Homo sapiens: one gene and its partners. Changing the gene in region 4 together with the main gene of any one other region gives a genetic interaction. Each region holds a gene or a part of one and is shown on either strand. Other genes may lie near its edges.

The links.
Region 1: changes in RB1 (region 4) and TAF5L together harm fitness more than expected from each alone (negative genetic interaction), as found in Homo sapiens cells (one large-scale study listed by BioGRID).
Region 2: changes in RB1 (region 4) and SKP2 together harm fitness more than expected from each alone (negative genetic interaction), as found in Homo sapiens cells (one study listed by BioGRID).
Region 3: changes in RB1 (region 4) and PPP2R3C together harm fitness more than expected from each alone (negative genetic interaction), as found in Homo sapiens cells (one large-scale study listed by BioGRID).
Region 5: changes in RB1 (region 4) and UNC13D together harm fitness more than expected from each alone (negative genetic interaction), as found in Homo sapiens cells (one large-scale study listed by BioGRID).
Region 6: changes in RB1 (region 4) and STAT6 together harm fitness more than expected from each alone (negative genetic interaction), as found in Homo sapiens cells (one large-scale study listed by BioGRID).
Region 7: changes in RB1 (region 4) and GAK together harm fitness more than expected from each alone (negative genetic interaction), as found in Homo sapiens cells (one large-scale study listed by BioGRID).

The regions. Positions count from the first base shown.
Region 1 is NC_000001.11:229,605,623-229,609,122, reverse strand, and holds part of TAF5L (TAF5-like RNA polymerase II p300/CBP-associated factor-associated factor 65 kDa subunit 5L), read left to right. Parts: intron 1-1,287; exon of another isoform or gene 1,288-1,315; coding exon of another isoform or gene 1,316-1,349; intron 1,350-2,246; exon of another isoform or gene 2,247-2,705; intron 2,706-2,929; exon of another isoform or gene 2,930-3,004; intron 3,005-3,500. UniProt on the Homo sapiens protein: Functions as a component of the PCAF complex. The PCAF complex is capable of efficiently acetylating histones in a nucleosomal context. The PCAF complex could be considered as the human version of the yeast SAGA complex.
Region 2 is NC_000005.10:36,165,611-36,169,110, reverse strand, and holds part of SKP2 (S-phase kinase-associated protein 2), read right to left. Parts: intron 2,593-3,500; coding exon 2,449-2,592; intron 799-2,448; coding exon 664-798; intron 1-663. UniProt on the Homo sapiens protein: Substrate recognition component of a SCF (SKP1-CUL1-F-box protein) E3 ubiquitin-protein ligase complex which mediates the ubiquitination and subsequent proteasomal degradation of target proteins involved in cell cycle progression, signal transduction and transcription.
Region 3 is NC_000014.9:35,084,972-35,087,981, reverse strand, and holds the end of PPP2R3C (serine/threonine-protein phosphatase 2A regulatory subunit B'' subunit gamma), read left to right. Parts: coding exon 1-31; intron 32-2,203; coding exon 2,204-2,392; 3' UTR 2,393-2,510; downstream 2,511-3,010. UniProt on the Homo sapiens protein: May regulate MCM3AP phosphorylation through phosphatase recruitment. May act as a negative regulator of ABCB1 expression and function through the dephosphorylation of ABCB1 by TFPI2/PPP2R3C complex.
Region 4 is NC_000013.11:48,376,751-48,380,250, forward strand, and holds part of RB1 (retinoblastoma-associated protein), read left to right. Parts: intron 1-167; coding exon 168-284; intron 285-2,843; coding exon 2,844-2,900; intron 2,901-3,084; exon of another isoform or gene 3,085-3,124; intron 3,125-3,302; coding exon 3,303-3,334; intron 3,335-3,414; coding exon 3,415-3,491; intron 3,492-3,500. UniProt on the Homo sapiens protein: Tumor suppressor that is a key regulator of the G1/S transition of the cell cycle. The hypophosphorylated form binds transcription regulators of the E2F family, preventing transcription of E2F-responsive genes.
Region 5 is NC_000017.11:75,837,905-75,841,404, reverse strand, and holds part of UNC13D (protein unc-13 homolog D), read left to right. Parts: intron 1-403; coding exon 404-448; intron 449-574; coding exon 575-643; intron 644-828; coding exon 829-898; intron 899-1,075; coding exon 1,076-1,180; intron 1,181-1,294; coding exon 1,295-1,387; intron 1,388-1,462; coding exon 1,463-1,566; intron 1,567-3,500. UniProt on the Homo sapiens protein: Plays a role in cytotoxic granule exocytosis in lymphocytes. Required for both granule maturation and granule docking and priming at the immunologic synapse.
Region 6 is NC_000012.12:57,101,363-57,104,862, reverse strand, and holds part of STAT6 (signal transducer and activator of transcription 6), read left to right. Parts: intron 1-49; coding exon 50-137; intron 138-271; exon of another isoform or gene 272-276; coding exon 277-399; exon of another isoform or gene 400-503; coding exon of another isoform or gene 504-536; intron 537-1,941; coding exon 1,942-2,034; intron 2,035-2,366; coding exon 2,367-2,573; intron 2,574-3,500. UniProt on the Homo sapiens protein: Carries out a dual function: signal transduction and activation of transcription. Involved in IL4/interleukin-4- and IL3/interleukin-3-mediated signaling.
Region 7 is NC_000004.12:866,317-869,816, forward strand, and holds part of GAK (cyclin-G-associated kinase), read right to left. Parts: intron 2,370-3,500; coding exon 2,223-2,369; intron 1,117-2,222; coding exon 640-1,116; intron 219-639; coding exon 48-218; intron 1-47. UniProt on the Homo sapiens protein: Associates with cyclin G and CDK5. Seems to act as an auxilin homolog that is involved in the uncoating of clathrin-coated vesicles by Hsc70 in non-neuronal cells. Expression oscillates slightly during the cell cycle, peaking at G1.

The DNA of each region.
Region 1 (3,500 bases), on a different chromosome or scaffold from region 4:
AATATATCTTAGGACAATATCTATCCTGGCATGTAGTCAGCACTTAACATAAATACAGGCTGAACGAATGAAGGAGACAGGCTCAAAGAAGCCAGATAATTTGCTTCTTTTTCTTTTTTTTGAGACGGTATTGTTCTGTTGCCCAGGCAGGAGTGCAGTGGCATGATCACGGCTCACTGCAGCCTTGACCTTCTGAGATCAAGTGATCCTCCCATCTCGGCCTCCTGAGTAGCTGGGACCACAAGCATGTGCCACAACACCTGGCTAATTTTTTTAAATTTTTTTGTAGAGACAGGGTCTCACTGTGTTGCCCAGGCTGGTTTCAAACTCCAGGCCTCAAGCAGTCCTCCCATCTTGGCCTCCCAAAGTGCTGAGATTGTAGGCACAAGCCACCACACCCAGCCAAGACATTTGTTTCTAAACCAGCTTCCCCACCACTAGTATGGTGAAAATAAATCTGTCATGGAGAGATTAATATCATATTTTTTTAACTGAGTAAAATAACTTTCTAAAAACTGAGTTAAATTTTTCTGCAAGTTGCTTAAAGCCTCAGAAACCAATGCCAATGATAAAAAATATCTCTAAGTTCTTACCTCTCAATGAAAGAAACCCTTATTATAAATTCGGTTTTTCTTTTTTTATCCTTAGTGGAAATTGATCACTGCACTGAAATATTTAAGATTTATATGATATGCAGAATTAATGGAACTTCCTTTTTTTCAAACATAATAGAGTCATTTTACTAAAGCCTTAATTTTCATGATTTTTCGTTTTTGTAACTATTAAACAGACTATTCTCTACTTATGAATTCTGTCACCCAACAACCATGAAACTGATAAGATAACCCCACTAGAGGGTTTTATTTTGTAACCCTTATTTCCTGTAATATTTTGACCATTTTCTCCAACTGTAGACTATAGTAAATATAGATTCTTTGCTTTAAAATACCATTATGGGGGCCAGGTAAAACTAGGATAATTCTATGCGTGTGTAAGGCCAGGTGTATTATTTTGGTTTATATATTGATTACTGTATACTCGTCGTTTACCATTAAAAATTATTACCACAAGGATTGTTTGGCCAGAACTTTACATTTCAAAAGATTATAGTCTATCAACCATTTCCTTTAAGTTCTTACTTTATTTCTGAACTGAGAAAGTTGTCTGTTATTTTGTCTGTAATTTGATTCTTTAATCCTTTGGTTTAAAGGATCATTATTTTAAAGGGGTTAATATATATTGATCACTTTGGACTGCTGCTCCTGGAATATTTTTCTCTACCCTCAGGTCTCTGAAGAGCAGTTAACCAAATCAAATGAATAGTTATTTCCTGATCACCAAGATAAAGTGTAAGATATACTCATTAATCTATTTTAGAAGCAGTCCTAGCATAAAAACACTATAGGTAAAAGTTTTTACATAAAATTTGAATATCACAGAAGCACTTTCACAGACCAGCATGAGATCAATTGCTGAATCATATAGGAATTGCATTCAGAATGAAAGGAGAAAGTGATTTGGTTGGCGGTAGTCAGAGAAGGCTTTACTGAGCAGGAGGTAGGCTTTAAGTCAGCACTTGAAGGATGGATTGAGTTTCAGTAGACTGGAAGAGGAGGAGGAAGAGGAGTAATTTGGGTAAGAAATAACATGAGCAAAAAGGCAGGCTTGACGACTGTACAGGAACAACTAAGGCTTTGTTGTGAATGGGGGTTTCAGGCTGGAGATCAATGAATATTAGTCTGAAAGCAGTTTGTAAAATTATTTGTAAGAGGAATGGCAGGGAGACTGACTGTGAATTAAAGTGCTTGGCAATCTTGAGAAATGAGGTGAGAAAGGACCAGAATTTGACAGCATTGTGGAACTGGAAGGCAGGAGCTTTATTTCATAGTTAAATTACCAAGGTGGAATCTCCAAGGCTCAGGAGTAAAGGAGGAAGAAGAGGTGACGATGGCTCAGGCTTTAAGACTGGAGTGGAGATGAAGATTTATTGAAAATAAATAAGTCAGAAGGGTTTATGTTTGTTAAATTGTCATGACAGTGGCATCCTACTGCATAGCTTGCAGTGGGAAATTTGAGGCTAGGATTTAGGAGAAAGATAAAGACTTGTAATAAAGAACATGTAGCATCAGCTACATGGAGATGCAAATTAAAGTCTTAAGAAGTGATAAAATCTCAAAGGAAGATACTAGGGAAAGATATAAGAGTATCTATGTCTATATCCACCTGAATGTATTTTTCCTCCACAGGTTGTCTGTAGATGAGAGATTCTGTGAGCTCACCTATTGCCGTAGGTCCTATTCTTCAGGAGGTGTAGTGGGAAGAACACAGCCTTTGGAGTCAAGCAACCTCTGGATTTGAACCAGGGCCAGCTGTGACTCTTAAACATGATCATGGATGCAAAGTACCTGGCTCCTAAGAGGCACACACCCAGTGTTAATTCTTTAAAGTGAAATGAGCATTTGAGGATTGACAGGAGGAAGAGGAACCAAAAAGGGAGTGACGACAGGACCAAGTAGTGTGGGCTTTCAGAATAAAGGACAGAGGAGTGCTAGTCAATAGAGCCAAACCTTGAAGAAAGGTAGAGGAGAATGAGGACCGACAGGATTAGTTTTGTTTAATTTAGTATCCTTTTTACTACTAATTTCCATGAACTCATGAAAAACTCCATTGTTCTCTCATTTACCGCCAGTAGAGTTGGGCACCAGGTAGGCATTCATTACATTTCAGTGGGTAGATAGAAGGAAGAAAAAGTGTACTTTCAGAGGATATGTTTGTTACTTTTGCAGTTAGAAAAAAATATATTTTAAGTGAGTACACTTTCAGTAAAATACAGAGTATGTTAGATTGCAAGGGAATAATTTAAAATGGGAGTTAGAATTCTGAATCTCACCTTCTTCCAAATTGATCAGTTTTTTTGTTTTATACCCAGCATACTGTTCTCTTCAGACAAGAGAGAGCAATTAAGCAATTTTGAACCTATGAGCTGAAGCAACAGTGAATTTCAGTAAGTTTTAAAGTAGTACATCACTATTTCTTGATAGCTAGGTTTTTTTCTAAACTTACTCAATTGAAATGCCTCTCATTTTAGAAAAGGAGCCTGAAATTTTGTTTCTAAGGAATTGAAAACAATCCTTCATCCCAATAAAAAACAAAGGGAAAAGAAAAACCAAAATCTAGTCACAGTTCTCGAAAGAAACAGCCAAGAGCCAACAGGATGGATATGTAGAGGTTTACTTTAAGGAATTGTTCCATGCAATTGTGGAGGCTTGGCACATTCAAAATCAGGGCGGGCCAGCAGGCTGGAGACCCAGGAAAGAGTTAGTGTTGCAGTTCAAATCCAAAGGCTCTCTGCTGGCAGAATTCCTTCTACTAGGGGAAGATAAGTCTTTTTCTATTAAAGCCTAAACTGATTGATTGATTGATTGGATGAGGCCCACACTTTATGGAAGGTAATCTGCTTTACTCAAAGTCTACTGACTTAAATGTGTTAATCTCATCTA
Region 2 (3,500 bases), on a different chromosome or scaffold from region 4:
TAGGGGCCCATTACAATCTGGTCCCTGACTCTCCTCACCTTGTCACTCTCCTCCCTTAGTCCTGTGCTCCAGCAACTTCCAACTACGTAAGAGTTTAGAACCACACAGGAAGTTTTACCTAGACTGGTTGCTTTGTCTTATTACCTAGAGATCTCCTACCTAGATATCTTCAATACTCAAGAGTCACTTCCTCTAACAAGGCGGCTCCTCGTGTGTTGCCACATATTCACTGAAACATTTAATAAACACACTGCATGGTAATTATCTGTCTTGCTCATAAATAGTTTACCTTCTTGCAAGAGAAAATAGACATGTCTTGCTCAATGTTTCCTCTTGCAAGAAGGTAAACTATAGCTTAACCAGCATTCACTAACAAGGTGGGAAAAGTTTTAGAGCATTCATTTTCTTCCCAAATAATACACATGCATTGTTCATCCTTGTACTTGTATCTCTAGAACCTAGCACAGGGCCTGGCATATAGTTAGCATTCAAGCTTTTGTTGCTTCAATGAGTCCTGAAAAGTTTTGCAGAAGCTAGAGCACTGCACTAGATATTTTCTGTATCCACCTGGATATGGCTAGAAGGGCACCCCAGTTATATACAGGGAAAAAAATTCATACACATAAAATCAACTGCCTTTGTGACACTCTGCCTGCCACTCACTTGACAATGGGATCCGAAAGCCGCAGGCCTTCCAGGCTTAGATTCTGCAACTTGGAACACTGAGACAGTATGCCGTGGAGGGTGGACACTTCTATAACTGAGTTCGATAGGTCCATGTGCTGTACACGAAAAGGGCTAAACACGGAGAGAAAAAAGGAGCTCCATAGGTGGCTCTCACGGGTACATCCAATTTCAAACCAGACCCCTCTTCTCCCCAAATGAGCAGCCAATCACAAACAAGACTCTAAATACATACTTCAAGCATTAACTATAGGGTCATAAAACATATTGCTACTAGTGTATTCCCATCTTCATTCATTTTAAAATGCAAGAGGATTTTTGCCAAGTACAGATGTTGCTGCCAATATAGTCCCACTTAGAAAATAACGAGTGGGCATCACAACAATGAGCTGGATGTGGGTGACAAGGAGATTAAGACCATAACGGCTCCTGGTTTCTGGCAGGGGTGAGTGGGTGAGCAGCAATAGAACAGGGAAGGTAGCGGAAGAGAAAGTTTTAAAGGGAGACCAGGCTGGGCGCAGTGGCTCACGCCTGTAATCACAACACTTTGAAAGGCTGAGTCCAGTGGATCACGATGTCAGGATATCAAGACCAGCCTGGCCAGCATGGTGAAACCCAGTCTCTACTAAAAATACAAAAAATTAGTTGGGCGTGGTGGCGCACACCTGTAGTCCCCAGGTGCTCGAGAGGCTGAGGCAGAATTGCTTGAACCTGGCAGGCAGAGGTTGCAATGAGCCGAGATCACGCCACTGCACTCCAGCCTGGGTGACACAGCAAGACTCCGTCTCAAAAAACAAAAACAATAAAAAAAAAGGGAGGCCAAATTTGAGTTATGCTAATATTGAAGTCCTTGTAAGAAATTCAGGTACAGACGTTTTTAGGTAATTAGAAATTTGGGAATTTGAAAGGGAGGGCCAAGCTATAGATGAGGAACTGAGAGTCCTGGGCATAAATGTGGGTGTAGAGGACACAGCTTGTCCAGGGACAGCATTTGGATTTGAAAAAGGTGGCAGCCAGGAACCGACCCTGGAGTGAACAGAGGAAATCACATATGTGAAGGAGACTGAGAAGGAACAGCCACAGGAGGAACAGGATAAAAAGCAGTGGGAGAGGCGGTCCTGACTACGGAAAGAAGGGAAAAAGTACTGGAGTCAGGAGACATGTTTTATCTTTAGCTTTGTTGTCTTCAGCTTGTTTTTCTGTTCAGTACCTAGTTATTCTACTATGTGATAGCAGTAACCTCAGTATTGCAAAATTATCAGAACAGAAAATTCTTTTTCAAAATATTCTACAAAACAAACAAAAAGAGGGCATTTTTTTCAGGTTCCAAATTTCTCCAAGACAAAAATCATAAACCCCAAGCTACAAACATGAAAAGACTCCTCACTTTTTTTTATTTATCAGAAATGGGCATTGGGGAAGTAACTGGGCACCCTTGCATCTGCCAGTGAGTGCTTTACTTGTGCCTGCCTTGTGGGACTCACAGTCCCCCTATCAGCTGAGGACTTGAGAAGACAAATGTGCCTCTTTCACCCTGGGAAGAGACTAACAGTAAACTTGAGTGAAATGGGAACAGTGTCATTGAAATCTATGCTAGGTTTTAGCACAAAGGCCCCATAGCAAAGTATGGAATTAACATCCCACACTGCACAGATAACCTACCATAGGCTTTAAGGCTGAAGAAAGAAAAAAAAAAAAAAAGCTTTGATCTGTTTCTACCTCGAAATTTAGAAATAGTCTTTTCCAGGGATTTTTCATCTTTACCTGAAATGTTCAGCCAATGGTTGGTCCATAAATGATCGTGGGCAGCGGAAGGCAATCACCCCTTGAGACAGCAACCGACCAGTCACATCCGGGTGCAGATTTTTACCTGTGAGGTCTAAGGTCTGCCATAGAGACTCATCAGACCTATAAAAGAGGAGATACTTAATTTGGCCAGTCGGTCACACTAAATGCTGGAAGCCCTCAACAACATTACTAACAGGTAGGACACTGCTGCTAAATCTCCTTGAAGCATATTCTAAAAGAACTTTTGTTTTTAAGTTGGCTATACAATTAGCTATGATATTTTTAAGGCACTAGAGAATTTTTCTTGATTTCACCAGGGATAAGCTTCCATCTTTCTCTTTCTATATACTTCCAATTTAGATGGTTCAATGTGAACATTAGCACTGCCGTGATCTAGAACCAGAGAATCATATTCCAGCATTCAAGTTGACAAATTTAAAAAATGATTGCTCAAATCAATTAATTATTATATTACTAGGCAAATAGGATCCTCTAAGAAGTTTTAAATCTATTTGACACTTTTGTCAAGCAATTATGATTACTGTAGCAACATGGAAAATTACTAAAGGAACGAAAGTTAGCATTATTTTATTATGAAATAAGGCTGTCATAGATATTCAATAGCAACAGTCATGGTTCAGCTGTGCCTTATAATATATTTGAAGCTTAAAACATACACGTGTATATGTATGTGTACATATGTGTGTGTATGAACTAATGTGAAATAAGGGAAAAATACAACGGATTATAGATGGTGTTTCTAAAACAAAAGGGATGTTCTAAAAACGTACTGAATAGCACAGTAAGAGGGTTTTAATATCCATAGTTTAATTCAATTTAAAAAAAGAAAATGTGAAATATAAGCACATGAAGGAACATTTTAAATGCTTAGGTGTACTAGAATTTTCTTTTTTAATAGTGCTTGAAATAAGTGGACCACTGGCCAGAGTTATGAAATAACTTCATCATAAAAAAATTGTCAGTGTGATTTGTGTGACAAATCTATCATTAAAAAGGTGGACTGTAGA
Region 3 (3,010 bases), on a different chromosome or scaffold from region 4:
ACAAGATCCTGTTTCATTTCAAGATGTCAAGGTTATCTTTTCCTTTAATTTACGTATTACCAGATAATTATGAGATAGTCATTTGTATTACATGAAATTTTATATGAAAGCAACTAATGAAGTACTATTTGAATCAAGTGTTTGCTTTTTGTTCTGAACTGATATTTAAATCATTACGAACTGAGACCACATTTGGACTATTTATGTAGTTTATAATTTTAGTATTGTCATCATTATGTTTTCATTGGAAGCATTCATTCATTTTAATTAAGACAGTCAGGGGGCCGGGCTCAGTGGCTCATGCTTGTAATCCCAGCACGTTGGGAGGCTGAGGCGGGCGGATCATCCGAGGTCAGGAGTTCAAGACCAGCCTGGTCAACATGGTGAAACCCCGTCTCTACTAAAAATACAAAAATTAGCTGGGCATGGTGGCGCATGCATGTAATCCCGGCTACTCGGGAGGCTGAGGCAGGAGAATCGTTGGAGCCCAGGAGGTGGAGGTTGCAGTGAGCTGAGATTGTGCCACTGCACTCCAGCCTGGACAACAAGAGTGAAACTCCATCTCAAAAGAAAAAAAAGAAAATTAAGACAGTCAGTACAGTCTATATCCTACGGCAGTCTGTTCAACTGTAAACTGATTTTTTACCTTGGAAACTGTTTTAGTATGCTACCTCAAACAGCCTGTTCACTTTTAGTAATTTTGCTACAAATTTTATTTTACTACAAATTTTGTAGTTATTTTACTACAAAAAGATTAGAAAACATGTACTAATTCCCTGTAAATATCTGTTGTACACTTCATAATATAGAAGGAGGTCTTCTATATGTTCCAGTAAGTTTTAGCAGAATTTAGCTTCTTTTTGGATGTCTAATGCATATCCAGAGAAAACTCCCCTCTCCCATCCTAACAAAATGTTGACATCAACATTGGAAATGAAGCTTTGTCACTATCTCTGAAACATTTAGATGTTTAATTGAGTTGAACGGTTAGCAAAAAAAAATTAAACCAAACCCTTGTTAGCCGGGTGTGGTGGTACACGGCTGTAATCCCAGCTATTTGGGAGGTCAAGACAGGAGAATGGCTTGAACCTGGGAGGCAAAGTTTGCAGCGAGCCAAGATCGCACTACTGCACTCCAGCCTGGGACAGAGGGACACTCCATCTCACACACACAAAAAAAGAAGGGGCTGGGCACGGTGGCTCACGCCTGTAATCCCAGCACTTTGGGAGGCCAAGGCAGGCGGATCACCTGAGGTCGGGAGTTCAAGACCAGCCTGACCAATATGGAGAAACCCCGTCTCTACTGAAAATACAAAAATTGGCCAGATGTGGTGGCACACGCCTGTAATCCCAGCTACTTGGAAGGCTGAGGCAGGAGAATCGCTTGAACCCAGGAGGCAGAGGTTGCGGTGAGCCGAGATCACACCATTGCACTCCAGCCTGGGCAACAAGGGTGAAACTCTGTCTCAAAAAAAAAAAAAAAAGGCTGGGCGCAGTGGCTCACACCTATAATTCCAGCAATTTGGGAGGCCAAAGCAGGCAGATTACTTAACATCAGGAGTTTGAGACCAGCCTGGCCAATATGGTGAAACCCCCATCTCTACTAAAAATACAAAAATTAGCTGGGTGTGGTGGCGTGCACCTGTAGTCCCACCTACTCGGGAGGCTGAGGCAGAAGAATCGCTTGAACCCAGGAGGCGGAGGTTGCAGTAAGCCAAGATCGCACTACTGCACTCCAGCCTGGATGACAGAGTGAGACTCCATCTCAAAAACAAAACAAAACAACAAAAACAAAAACTACAGACAAAACTTTGTTTCACCAATTAGAAGGCAACAGAAAAATATATAAGAAACTAGTTAACGTGCAGTCCCTGAACACTGCATTAGATAGTTCTGCCACTAATTACCTATGTAGCTAGATTAGGCACTGAGCCTTGGTTTCTTCATCTATAAAACGAAGGATAGCTATCACATAGCTAAGGAGTTATCCAATAAAATTTTGTGGTTGTAGGTAGAGAAAAGGAAACTGCCTGTTAAATGGAAAAGAAAAAAAGTAGAACAAAAAATTAACATAAGCCCAAGTGGCAGCCCTCAATTTTATTCCTCTGTACTTCAGTGGATGCAAACAGCCCTGAATTTTGGATCACTATGTGTGATAGAAATTAAGTGGATCAAATTTCATTGTATTTTTTTTTCTCTTGCAGGATGAAATCTTTGACATGGTAAAACCAAAGGATCCTTTGAAAATCTCTCTTCAGGATTTAATCAACAGTAATCAAGGAGACACAGTAACCACCATTCTAATCGATTTGAATGGCTTCTGGACTTACGAGAACAGAGAGGCTCTTGTTGCAAATGACAGTGAAAACTCTGCAGACCTTGATGATACATGATCTCTGAAAGACTAGACTGTCTTATATTATGAGATACTTGAATGCTGCATGTAAAGCCTTTAAAGCAAAATCCTCAGAAATGGTCTAAATAAAACACTTGATATGCCTAGAGAACACAGCAAATGTTTTGGTTACTGGAATTTTGGTTGCAATAGTTTAGAAGCAATAGGACCAAATATTGCTTGTTAGGAGGTGGGGTAAGTTCTGGTTCCTTTTAGTTCAAAGATGGGAAGTGTGATTTGCTGTAGGTAGATGATGTTCAGTTTAAATCTGTATAATCTTCAGAGATGAAGTTTCCATGGAATATTTCTGACAGTCATTTAGAATGTGAATATTTGACTGACAGTGCATATATATATACACACAACATGTGTGTGTGTGTGTGTCTATATATATAAAATCTCAAAGATGACAAACTTTCCCATTCATGAGTAGAGCCATTTTATTTCTGGGTTAGGATTAGGATTTTTTTTTAGGGGGGGTCAAGTGATTCTCCTGCCTCGGCCTCCTGAGTAGCTGGGATTATAGGCGCCTGCCAACACACCTGGCTAATTTTTGTATTTTAGCAGAGACAGGGTTTCACCATGTTGGCCAGGCTGGTCTCAAACTCCTGACCTC
Region 4 (3,500 bases):
GAAATGATATTGTCTGCTTATGTTCAGTAGTTGTGGTTACCTAGTTATTATGGAAGTGTTTCCACATTTTTATGAACAATTTAAAAAGTCATATATTATGGAGCAGAAAATATTAATTCTGATTACACAGTATCCTCGACATTGATTTCTGTTTTTACCTCCTAAAGAACTGCACAGTGAATCCAAAAGAAAGTATACTGAAAAGAGTGAAGGATATAGGATACATCTTTAAAGAGAAATTTGCTAAAGCTGTGGGACAGGGTTGTGTCGAAATTGGATCACAGGTAACTTGAATTCATTGTAATTCGTGGTACTATAGAGTAATAATATTAAAAGCAGCATCTTTCCAGTTCGTATAAATACTCTAACAGTATTTGTCTAGTAGTATAAAATACTGTCAGATACTATATCCCTGCTGCCTGTGTATGCTGCTATTTATGGGTAACTTTATGGAAAACTACCTCCCACCCCATTATAAAAACTATGTAATAAAGGAACACATAGCCATTGTAGAAATTTTGGAAAATACAACTAAGAAAAAAATTGAAATCTTTGATATTAAATTTTTGATTTTGCTTTGACTTCTACATGTATGACTGTTCATGTATGCATATCCTAATGTGAATGGGACTATACATGCCATTTGTCAGTGATATTATTGAGTGATATTATTTCAGGAAATCTAAAGCTAATATAATAGGTAAGAGTATGGGCCATGGAGTGACAGCCCTGGGTTTATATTTGGTTCTACCATTGTTGATCTTGGACATGTCATTTAACTTCTCTGAGATTCAGGTTCTATATTTGCTCTGCTTTGTTGTGTGGCATTAATGAGGATAATATACAAAAATATATTGGAAAACTGGAGTCCACTGTACACATTTATTTCAGTGTAGTGAGGTTATATTTTGATGCCATCAGTGTTTTAAACATTGATATTTAATGGTTCTTTTTGATTCTACAGCCATGCACCACTTAACAGGGATATGTTCTGACAAATGCATCATTAGGCAATTTTGTTGTGTGAACCTGGTAGAGTGTGTCTGTACAAACCTAGATGGTATAGCCGATTGTACATCTAAGCTGTATGATATAGCCTATTCATTCCTAGGCTACAGGCCTCTACAGCATGTGTACTGAATACTGTAGGTAATGGTAACATAATGTGTTACCATTTGTGTATCTAAATATATCCAAACATAGAAAAGGTAAAGATATAGTACAAAAGATAAAAAATGGAACATTTGCACAGAGCACTTACTATGAAAGGAGCTTACAGGATTGAAAGTTGCTCTGAATGAGTCAGTGAGTCGAGTGGCAAGTGAATGTGAAGGCCTACAATATTACCTATGACATGACTGTACACTATCGTAGACTTTATAAATACTACACTTAGGCTAAACTAATTTCATAAACATTTTTTCTTTCTTCAGTAGTAAATTAACCATAGCTCACTGTAACTTTTTTACTTTATAAATCTTCAGTTTGTAAGAAACTTTTGACTCTTATAACACTTAGCTTAAAACACAAACACCTTATACAGCTGTACAAAAATATTTTCTTTCTTTATAATCCTTATTCTGTACACTTTTTTCTATTTAAAAATTTTTTCAATTTCATAAAGATTTTTGCCAAAAACAAAGGCAAACACACACATTAGCCTAGGCCTACACAGGATCAGGATTAACAATACCACTGTCTTCTGCCTCCAAATTCTGTCCCAAGTCTTCAGGGACAATAAAATGCATAGAGCTGTCAACTCCTATGATGATGATGCTATCTTCTGGAATATCTCCTGAAGGAGCTGCCTGAGGGTGTTTTACATTTAACTTTTTTTTTTTTTTACAAGTAGAAGGAGGATGCTCTAAACTAATAAAAAGTATAGTATAATAAATACATAAACCAGTAACATGTTCATTATTAAGTATTATGTACTGTACATAATTGTATGTACTATACTTTTATATGACTGGCAGTGCAATAGGTTTATTTACATCAGCATCATCACAAAGATGTGAGTAATGTAATGCATTGCACTACATTACACTAAACAATAGGAATTTTTCAGCTCCATTATAATCTTATGGGACTACTGTTAGATATGCAGTCAGTTATTGACCAAAAACGTTGTTATGCGGTGCATGATTATATATGAGATTTTTGCTCTTAGTTTGGAAGGAAATAATATGGTGTGTGTTTATATTTCTAAAATTTGGTTATTCTTTCAAATAATGGGAACTAGTTATTTGGCTAAAACTTCTTGCTCATAAGGTCAGTTTGATCTGATTTTTGCCTGTGTCAGTTTTACTAAATTTATGGACAAAGACTGTCCTCTTAATCCTGGACAGCTATCTTGAAAATACATGTCCTAGGTCATGAGAAATGTTATATAAGGTACATAAAGTGCTTAAAATAGTACTGGGCACATAACCTATCTTTAGTATGAATGATATAAACTGAAATGGAGTTAAGGAAATCCAGGTACTGGACCTACCCTCTTGTTAATTTACTTGGGAATGTTAATCACCACTTAATACTTAAGTTGTGAGTTTTAGACAAGCTAGCTTTTGTGTTGTCTTGGCGGCCATATTTGTAAGAAGGGTGAGAAGTATGTTTTAAGAAAAGGCTTTTTAAAAAATTTTAGTAATTGTCAGCTGGGTATAGTGGTACATGCCTATAATCCCAGCCTCTTGGGAGGCCAAAGCAGGAGGATCTCTTGAGCCCAGGAGTGTGAAGGCCAGCCTGGGCAAAACAGTGAGACTCCATCTCAAAAAAAAAAAAAATTTCATAATTGTGATTTTCTAAAATAGCAGGCTCTTATTTTTCTTTTTGTTTGTTTGTAGCGATACAAACTTGGAGTTCGCTTGTATTACCGAGTAATGGAATCCATGCTTAAATCAGTAAGTTAAAAACAATATAAAAAAATTTCAGCCGGGCGCGGTGGCTCACGCCTGCAATCCCAGCACTTTGGGAGGCCGAGGTGGGCAGATCAGGAGGTCAAGGCATCAAGATCATCCTGGCCAAAATGGTGAAACCCTGTCTCTACTAAAAGTACAAAAATTAGCTGGGCGTGGTGGTGTAGACCTGTAGTCCCAGCTACTTGGCAGGCTGAGGCAGGAGAATCCCTTGAACCAGGGAGGTGGAGGTTGCAGTGAGCCAAGATTGTGCCATTTCACCCCAGCCTGGCAACAGAGCAAGACACCATCTAAAAAAAAAAAAAAAAAAAAAAAAAATTCAATGCTGACACAAATAAGGTTTCAATTAAACAACTTCTTTTTTTTTTTTTAAATTATCTGTTTCAGGAAGAAGAACGATTATCCATTCAAAATTTTAGGTAAATTTTTTACTTTTAGTAAAAAATTTTTTTCTTTTTATAGAAGTAAGTATTTTATAATCTTTTTTTTTTTCCTTTAGCAAACTTCTGAATGACAACATTTTTCATATGTCTTTATTGGCGTGCGCTCTTGAGGTTGTAATGGCCACATATAGCAGTAAGTTAA
Region 5 (3,500 bases), on a different chromosome or scaffold from region 4:
TTGGGAGGCCTAGGCGGGCGGATCACGAGGTCAGAAGCTCAAGACCAGTGTGGCCAACACAGTGAAACCCCGTCTCTACTAAAAATACAAAAATTAGCCAGGTGTGGTGGCGGGCACCTGTAATCCCAGCTACTTGGAAGGCTGAGGCAGGAAAATTGCTTGAACCCAGGAGGCAGAGGTTGCAGTGAGTTAGATCCTGCCACTGCACTCCTCCAGCCTGGGGGACAGAACTAGACTCCATCTCAAAAAAAAAAAAAAAAAAAAAAAAAGGGATGCGGCTGGGAGGAGGGAAGTTTGGCAGGGATAGGCTACAACTCCATGGCTCTGGGCTGTGGTCACTTACTGCTTCGTCTGGGGGCATCCACCCTCCAGGGCCCTCAACCACGCCCTTTTCTCCATACAGGGAGTTTGAGGACATCACCAATGCGAGCTTTCATCTGGACATGTGGTGAGTGACCTGGCCTGCCCCTAGGGATGGGAAGGGAAGGGATCTGGGGTGAGAGAGGCGGAACCTCCTCCTGGAAGAGGTCGTAGGCACTCTCTCTGCTTCCTTCTCAAACCTCTGTCCTGCCAGGGACCTGGACACTGTGGAGTCTGTCCGACAGAAGCTTGGGGAGCTCACGGATCTGCATGGGCTTCGCAGGTTCGTGTTGCAGGGCTCACAGGGAAGGGGTTGGGGCTCCTTTTGCCCTCCATCCCCCAACATGCACACTGGATGCTGGGGTGCAGGCTCCTTTGGGGTCCAGGTGGCTGCGGCCGGGGGTGGATTCCAGCCTAATCCCTTCCGACCCTTGCTGCGTCCCCCTTATGGGACCCTGCCTGACGCAGGATCTTTAAAGAGGCCCGGAAGGACAAAGGCCAGGACGACTTTCTGGGGAACGTGGTTCTGAGGCTGCAGGTGAGGAGGATGAGGAAAGGGGCCCAGGAGCGAGGCAGAGGGAGGGGGTTGGGAGGGGTTCTGGGGAGAGGCTCTGTGTCCTCACAAAGCTGAGCCTGGGGTCCACCTCCTGTCGCCTCCGCTGCCCCGACTCTATGAGGTTCTGACGCTCACGGGCTGGGCATCCCCGCCTGTCAGGACCTGCGCTGCCGAGAGGACCAGTGGTACCCCCTGGAACCCCGCACTGAGACCTACCCAGACCGAGGCCAGTGCCACCTCCAGTTCCAACTCATCCATAAGCGGGTAGGTCGGGTACTGGGCCAGTGGCCATGCCCAGCTCTTGCGGCGGTCTGCTGGGTTGCGGGGCTGGCTGCACCCAGTGTGAGGCCCTGTCTGCTCACAGAGGCCTCATTGCAGAGAGCCACTTCGGCCAGCCGCTCGCAGCCGAGCTACACCGTGCACCTCCACCTCCTGCAGCAGCTTGTGTCCCACGAGGTCACCCAGCACGAGGTATTGCCCTCCTGGGGCTGGGCGCAGCCGGGGCTGCCCTTCAGGTCCTGACACTCCTCCACCTGCTCCCCTCAGGCGGGAAGCACCTCCTGGGACGGGTCGCTGAGTCCCCAGGCTGCCACCGTCCTCTTTCTGCACGCCACACAGAAGGACCTATCCGACTTCCACCAGTCCATGGCGTGAGTACACAGCCCTGGGCAGAACCCCTGAGCCACCAGCCCCCCACGCCCCCTGCCCTCCTCCAAGCCGGTAGCCCAAAGTGTAATTCTCAGCAGAGTTCCCTTTGGCCCAAAATGTGTGTTTTAAGTTTTGAATCAGTTGCCAATTTTAAAAAGTCTAGAGATTCGGCTGATGCGGTGGCTCACTCCTGTAATCCCAGGACTTTGGGAGGCTGAGGCAGGAGGATCACTTGAGCCCAGGATTTCAAGGCTGCAGTGAGCTATGATCACACCAACACTCCTGCCCGGATCACAGAGTGAGACCTCATTTCCAAAAAATATTAGAAAAAGCTATCTGGAGATTTGACATACCATCCAGATCTCCAGCTTCTCATGAAACACAAGTGCTGGAACTGCAGGGTCATCATTTTGCTGCTTTTTTTTTTTTTTTTTGAAACGGAGTTTCACCCTTGTTGCCCAGGCTGGAGTGGAATGGTGCAATCTTGACTCACTGCATGCAACCTCTGCCTTCCAGGTTCAAGTGATTCTCCTGCCTCAGCCTCCCGAGTAGCTGGGATTACAGGCATGCGCCACCACGCCCAGCTAACTTTGTATTTTTAGTAGAGACGGGGTTTCTCCATGTTGGTCAAGCTGGTCTCCAACTCCCGACCTCAGGTGATCTGCCTGCCTTGGCCTCTCAAAGTGCTGAGATTATAGGCATGAGCCACTGCACCGAGCCATTTTGCTGCTTTTTTTTTTTGAGACAGAGTCTTGCTCTTTCGCCCAGGCCGGAGTGCAGTGGCACGATCTTGGCTCACTGCAGGCTCCGCCTCCTGGGTTCACGCCATTCTCCTGCCTCAGCCTCCCGAGTAGCTGGGACTACAGGCGCCAGCCACCGCGCCCGGCTAATTTTTTGTATTTTTAGTAGAGATGGGGTTTCACCGTGTTAGCCAGGATGGTCTCGATCTCCTGACCTCATGATCCGCCCGCCTTGGCCTCCCAAAGTGCTGGGATTATAGGCGCGTGCCACCGCGCCCAGCCTTTGCTGCTTTTTTGAGTGGACAGAGCGGAGCGATGTGTGTGCCTCTGCCCATCATGGCTGCCATTGGGCCCACTTCAGTTGCTTTCGTCTCCTGAGTCCTGGGCATTTGAATTTGGACCCGGTCCCTAACCCCAGCCCCGCTTCCCAATGCCATAGCCTTCAACTCAGCAAAACTACGCGCTGATAAGGACAAATCTATGTTGAGGGCAACTCACGTCAAGTCCTAGGAATGCCGGGGAGGGCACAGGGGGTCACAGCCATTCCAGTGCATGTGAGTAGGGCAGAGATGGGACATAGCCGGCCGGGCACGGTGGCTCGCGCCTGGAATCCCAGCACTTTGGGAGGCCGAGACAGGCAGATCACTTGAAGTCAGGAGTTTGAGACCAGCCTGGCCAACATGGTGAAATCCTGTCTCTACAAAATATAGAAAAATTAGTCAGGTGTGGGGGCGCATGTCTGTAATCCCAGCTACTCGGGAGGGTGAGGCACGAGAATCACTTGAACCCGGGAGGTGGAGGTTGCAGTGACCTGAGATCACACCACTGCACTCCAGCCTGGGCGACACAGCGAGGCTCTGTCTCAAAAAAAAAAAAAAAGAGATGGGACACAGCCAAGTGCTGGCCAGGGGAGGAACAGGAGCAGGATGCCGACTCAGGCCTGGGCTGTGACTTGGAGTCTGAGTGGGAGGCGGAGGGAGCCCAGGGGAGTGCATTTCTGGGCTGGGGTCAGCTTGTGTACTGCTAGGACCTCAGGCAGGTGGGTGATTCGGAGACAAGGGTGGAATGGTGGTGCGGCTGGAGACTGGAGCAGGCACCAGATGGGGAGGGACCTGGTTTGCCTGCAGGGCCCAAGCACAGTAATGCAGGTGGCTGCAGTGTCCAATAGGGACTTCGGCCTGTCCCCAGGCTGCTCC
Region 6 (3,500 bases), on a different chromosome or scaffold from region 4:
CCTGACGACAGTGAGATGAGCTCGTTCACACTCTGACCTCCCCTGGCAGAGAAAGCACTGGAGAAATCATCAACAACACTGTGCCCTTGGAGAACAGCATTCCTGGGAACTGCTGCTCTGCCCTGTTCAAGAACCTGGTGAGGGGCTTTGGGGTGCAGTGAGGGGGGCACCACTAGGAGACTGTGGGACTCTCCTTGGAGAGGATGTCAGGAAGCCCAGGAGGAGCGGTCTCTGTCCTCATGACCTCGCCCTTGCTCTCCCTCACCCCACCCACAGCTTCTCAAGAAGATCAAGCGGTGTGAGCGGAAGGGCACTGAGTCTGTCACAGAGGAGAAGTGCGCTGTGCTCTTCTCTGCCAGCTTCACACTTGGCCCCGGCAAACTCCCCATCCAGCTCCAGGTGAACCGTGGCCCAGCCCTGCCCCAATCTGGGACCCCGAGTCCTCCTCCAATGCCACACACAAGGGCCCTGGACCCTCACCTCTTGTGACTGCCCCATACCCCATGTGTCTGGGATTCATGCACACTGGGGCCCGGGTGAGTGGGGGTGAGCAAGAGCATGGAGTGCACAGGGCAGGGAATGGTAGTGGATAGCAGCAAACACTTCGGAAGCACTTCCTATAGACCAGGGCACTCTATTAAATGATACATACGCACATGCGTGCCAGCACACACACGTCTGGTTTTCACAATAACATTATGAGGTAGGCAGTATTATCAGCCTCATTTTATAGATAAGGACATTGAGACAGAGAGTTTAAGTAGTTTGTCCCAGTCACACAGCTAAGTGTTGGAGCTGGTATTTGAAACCTGGAGGTCTGGTTCCATAGCGATGACTAATAACCACTTCTCTACGGTGAGGCCCTGATTGAGCTTCAGAACGCATTTAATAACATGGCATGAGCTTTTTGATTATGATGTGTGAGTCCAATAACTTCTCTGAGTGCTCAGAGCCAGTCCCCTGAGGAAACTTCTTGCTTCACTAAGAAACCCCTGTCCGGCTGGGCATGGTGGCTCAAGCCTGTAATCCCAGCACTTTGGGAGGCCGAGGTGGGTAGATCACAAGGTCAGGAGTTCAAGACCAGCCTGGCCAATATGGTGAAACCCCGTCTCCACTAAAAATACAAAAATTAGCTGGGCGTGGTGGTGCAGGCCTGTAGTCCCAGCTGCTCGGGAGGCTAAGCAGGAGAATCGCTTGAACCCAGGAGGCGGAGGTTGCAGTGAGCCAAGATTGCGCCACTGCCCTTCAGCCTGGGCGACAGAGCAAGACTATGTCTCAAAAACAAAACAAAACAACTCAGCACTTTGGGAGGCCAAGGTAGGAGGATCGCTTGAGCCTGCAAGTTTAAGACCAGCCTGGGCTACATAGGGAGATCCAATCTCTACAAAAAATAAAAAATTGGCCGGGCATGGTGGCTCACGCCTGTAATCCCAGCACTTTGGGAGGCCAAGGCGGGCGGATCATGAGGTCAGGAAATCGAGACCATCCTGGCTAACACGGTGAAACCTCGTATCTACTAAAAATACAAAAAATTAGCCAGGCATGGTGGCGGGCGCCTGAGTCCCAGCTACTCGGGAGGCTGAAGCAGGAGAATGGCGTGAACCTGGGAGGGAGAGCTTGCAGTGAGCCAAGATCGCGCCACTGCACTCCAGCCTGAGTGACAGAGCGAGACTCTGTCTCAAAAATAAATAAATAAATAATTAGCTGGATTAGGTGGTACATTTCTGTAGTTCCAGCTATTCAGGAGGCTGAGGTGGAAGGATCACTTGAGCCCTGAAGGCTGAGGCTGCAGTGAGCTGAGATTGCACTACTGCACTCCAGCCTGGGCAACAGAGTGAGATACTATCTAAAAAAAAAAAAAAAAAAAAAAAAAAAAAAAAAAAAAAAAAAAAAAAAAGGAAAGAAAGAAAGAAAAGAAACCCCTGTCCTCACCCTCTTCAGGCCCTGTCTCTGCCCCTGGTGGTCATCGTCCATGGCAACCAAGACAACAATGCCAAAGCCACTATCCTGTGGGACAATGCCTTCTCTGAGATGGTGAGGAAAGTCCTGGAGTTGGAGGGAACAGGGGCAGGGTGGGTTCTAACATGGGCAGTGGTGCAGGCCTGCTGATGGGGTGGTGGGCATGTTTAAATGGGTGTGACCTTAACACTTTCTCATGGGCCTGCTTTCGTGCTTCTGACCTCTTTTCACCCCAGTCTTAACAACTATCAGGCCACAGCACTGTAACCTAGAAAAAACAGCATGTTTGTGAGCGATATCAGGGGCTGTGGAGGGGTAGGCCACAGGCAGGTGGGAGGGATGAAGGCCGGCCCGAGGAATAACAAGACGGTAGCCTGCAGTGCTCTCTTCTTCCCCCTTCTCCCCAGGACCGCGTGCCCTTTGTGGTGGCTGAGCGGGTGCCCTGGGAGAAGATGTGTGAAACTCTGAACCTGAAGTTCATGGCTGAGGTGGGGACCAACCGGGGGCTGCTCCCAGAGCACTTCCTCTTCCTGGCCCAGAAGATCTTCAATGACAACAGCCTCAGTATGGAGGCCTTCCAGCACCGTTCTGTGTCCTGGTCGCAGTTCAACAAGGTCATTCTCCTGCCCTTTGGACCTCCCACCCCCAAGCTCTTCATCCCTGGGGCACTCAGGGCCTGCTCAGCCTCCATGCAGGGACCTTCCACTGGATTCTCCACAGTGCCCCCTCAGGTCCTTTAGGAAGGCCTGTCATGGACCAGGGAGGAAAAACCCCAGGCCTGGGGGTTGGCTCTGGAGATGCGTTCTCTGACATCCCTGAGGTTTTGGTCTGGGGGCCATCTGTCCTTCCTCTTTACCAGTGACTTGCATGACTCACCCAGGTTGTGTGTAAACAGAGCTCTGATTCAAAGTGACTTTGACCTGTTGGAAAAATAGTTCCTGGCCGGGCACAGCGGCTCATGCCTGTAATCCCAGTCTTTGACATGCCGGGGTGGGTGGATCACCTGAGGTCAGGAGTTTGAGACCAGCCTGGCCAACATGGTGAAACTCCATCTCTACTAAAAATACAAAAATTAGCCAGTTGCGGTGGCACATGCCTGTAATCCCAGCTACATGGGAGGCTGACGCAGGAGAATTGCTTGAACCCAGGAGGTGGAGGTTGCAGTGAGCTGAGATCATACCACTGCACTCAAGCCTGGGTGACAGAGCAAGACTCTGTCTCAAAAAAAAAAAAAAAAAAAGGCCAGGCATGGTGGTTCATGCCTGTAATCCCAGCACTTTGGGAGGCCGAGACGGATAGATCACCTGAGGTCAGGAGTTCGAGACCAGCCTGGCCAACATGGCAAAACCCCGTCTCTACTAAAAACAAAAAAATAGCCAGGAGTGGTCGTTTGCGTCTGTAATCCCAGCTACTCGGCTGAGGCAGGAGGTGAACCCAGGAGGTAGAGGCTGCAGGGAAGATGAAACCATTGCACTCCAGCCTGGGCAAGACTCTGTATCAAAAAAAAAAAAAAAAAAGGCTAGGTGTGGTGGCTCACACCT
Region 7 (3,500 bases), on a different chromosome or scaffold from region 4:
GAGGGAGGCGGCCATGGAGAGCTGGCTGCCAGGCGAGAGGCACTTACCCAGGTGCAGGAAGTCGGCGCTGCAGGATGGGGGCGGAGCACTGTGGGCAGACGGGAAGGATGGTGGGACGGTCACAGAGTCCGAATTGAGAAATTCGCCGAAGAGATCAGGATTGGAGCAGGGCTGGGAGTTGTTGCCTGAAGACGGCAGAAGCGGGCCAAAGGGGTCAGCTGTGGGGACAGGCGGGCATGGGGAGGACTCAGCCCGGCTGCCTGAAGACAAAGGAGCCCAGCTCTGGAGTCAGGCCTGCCCAAGAGGCCACTCCAGCTGGGCAGCCCAGACCCCACGGCTGCCCTCGCAGGGGCACTGAGGCAGTCAGCCCAGGGGCTCCCCGTGCCCCACGCCTCAGGATGACTTTCCCAGGGACACAGCAACACTGCTGAGATGGAGAAGCCAGTAGCTCCCGGCCCGTGAGCTCAGGTGGGCAGCACAGAACCCTGACATGACCCCGAGGCTGCTCCTGGGGGAGGTGGGGGAAGGGCACGTTCCCTTCCTGCAAGCACCTTCGAAACACGCCCATGCAGTGAGAATGACTCAGCCTCATCACTCATCTACTGTGAAGCCACTCGCCTTCAGAACAGAAACACGTACCAGCGGCAGGGGGCCCTCCTCTTGGGGTGCTCTGCACGCTCAGGGGAGGGGCCGGGCTTGCCAGGAGCAGCGGGTCCTCGCTGAGCAGATCCTCCGGGGGCCCCTGGGAGGCGGCCTCAGGGGGCCCAAGGAGGCAGCTGAGCAGGTCGGTGTTGCTGGAGGGGGCCTTGCAGGCCTGCGGGGGTACAGCTGGCCCTGCGCCCACCTCGGAGTGCAGGCCCAGGAGGTCGACCCCGTCTTCCTGTGGCACAGGCTCTGGCAGCACAGCCGGTGTCTCCACCTCAAAAACCAAGTCCTGCTGCACCAGCCCTGCTGCCAGGCCGGGGGGCTCTGGGTCGGCCCTGGGTTCCTGGCCCTCGCTGGAGATCGGGGATCCCCCTTCATCTGACACCTCACTCTCGTCTCTGTCCTCCATCAGGGCAGACTCGCTCTCCTTGGAAGAGGCATTTTCTGCACCAGTCTCTGCCTCCTTCTCTTCTGCGAAAAGGAAACAAAACCACAGGCTAGTGAGACCACACGGCCAGCACCAGGGTCCCCACGGCGCGTCCCTTCAGGGCCTCCTCGGCCCAGGGCCTTGGTGAACACACGTGGCCAGCACCAGGGTCCCCACGGCGCGTCCCTTCAGGGCCTCCTCGGCCCAGGGCCTTGGTGAACACACGTGGCCAGCACCAGGGTCCCCATGGCATGGCCCCTCGGCACCTCCTCGGCCCAGGGCCTTGGCAAGTGCTGCAGGAACACCAGGGTCCCCACGGCGCGTCCCCTCAGCCCAGGGCCTTGGCGAACCCACATGGCCAGCACCAATGTCCCCATGGCACGGCCCCTCAGCGCCTCCTTGGCCCAGGGCCCTGGCGAGTGCTGCAGAAGCTTCTGGGCGGGCGGTGGGGTGTTGTTCCTGAGGCGTCTCCAGCACACCCACCTCCAGCCTCTGCCTCAAGGGTCTGCCTGTGGCTCTCTCCGCCTGGGCCTCTGCGGTGCCTCAGGCTGAGTCAAGTGGGGGCCACATGGCAGCACTAGGGGGTAGGAACACCAATCAAGGGTGCTCTGGGAACAGGCGGCAGAAGGGACGAGCCCGATGGGAAGGCCAGGGGTGCTGGGACAGGAAGTGGCAGGTGCATCCCTTGGGGTGTGTCTGGGGTGAGGTCCAGTGATGGCGCCCAGGTGTTTTCCTGAAAAGCCTCAGAGGGGCTGGGAGCCCACTGGGGGTGTGGGCAAAGAGAGGTGTGGGATCCCCAGGTGGTGACAGTCTGTCCCTCCGCCCAGGCCCTTCCCCTGTACCCAGGGGCCCCGCCAGCATGGCCCATGCTGCCAGCCTCCCCAGGCCCACAGACTGGGATGAAGAGCGAGGGTTGTTATTTCAGACTTTGTGGGCATGTTCTTTTTTTTTCACCTTTAAAAAGATATGAAATCATTCTTAGCTCGTGAGCCATTAAAGAACAGGCTGACATGCCGGGTGCACAGCCCCACTGAGGTGCAACTCAGCTCTGCCGGAGGCCCGTCTCCCAAGACGCTTGCCCTGCCCCAGGGGCACCTCCAGACCAGGGGCCTGCCCTCTGCAAGTGGCCAGGTCCAGGGACGCTGCCTACCCTGCCAGTCCAGCGTGTGCAGGAAGCGACTGGCGTCCGCGCTGCTGCTTGGCGGTGAGTCAGAGTCTGTGGGTTCGGCTTCCGGGGACCCTGCCCCAGCATCATACTGAGCCGTGGAGCCAGGCTGCCGGGGAAGCTCCGGCTTCCCTGCAGGAGAGGGAGGGCGTCAGGGCACTGGCACTGGCCAGCAGCCTCGGGGCAACACTGACCCCAGAGCTGGGAAGTGCAGCCAGGCGGGCGCCAGCACCGTGGCAGGCCAGGCCATCGGTAAAGCAGACCAATGACATGACGGGGAGGGGCTCTCTGAACAGATTCCTGCTATCCACTCGGATGCCACTCTGGGCCATGCGTGCACACTTGGGCACAGCACACGCACACATGAACACGCACAAGGAACCCACCACTGAGGCATCAAACGCCACACATATGCAGGGTACACATGAATGCACACACACAGCTGCACGGTACACACGAATGCATAGAGCACACACACAGGCGCACAGTACACACAAATGCACACACACAGATGCAGGGTACACACGAATGCACACACAGCACACACAGATGCACAGTATACACGAATGCACAGACAGCACACACATAGATGCAGGGTACACATGAATACACACAGCACACACAGATGCACAGTACACATGAATGCACACACAGATGCATGGTACACACGGATGCACAGACAGCACACACACAGATGCAGGGTACACATGAATGCACACACAGCACACACACAGATGCACAGTACACATGAATGCACACACAGCACACAGATGCACAGTACACACGAATGCACACACAGCACATACACACATGCAGGGTACACACGAATGCAAAGCACACACAGATGCACGGTACACATGAATGCACACACAGCACAAATGCACAGTACACAGGAATGCACACACAGCACACACAGATGCATGGTACACAGGAATGCACACACACAGATGCACAGTACACACGAATGCACACACAGCACATACACACATGCAGGGTACACATGAATGCACACACACAGATGCACAGTACACACGAATGCACACACAGCACATACACACATGCAGGGTACACATGAATGCACACACACAGATGCACAGTACACACGAATGCACACACAGCACATACACACATGCAGGGTACACATGAATGCACACACAGCACACACAGATGCACAGTACACATGAATGCACACAGTACACACAGATGCACAGTACACACGAATGCACACACAGCAGAGATGCATGGTACACACAAATGCACACA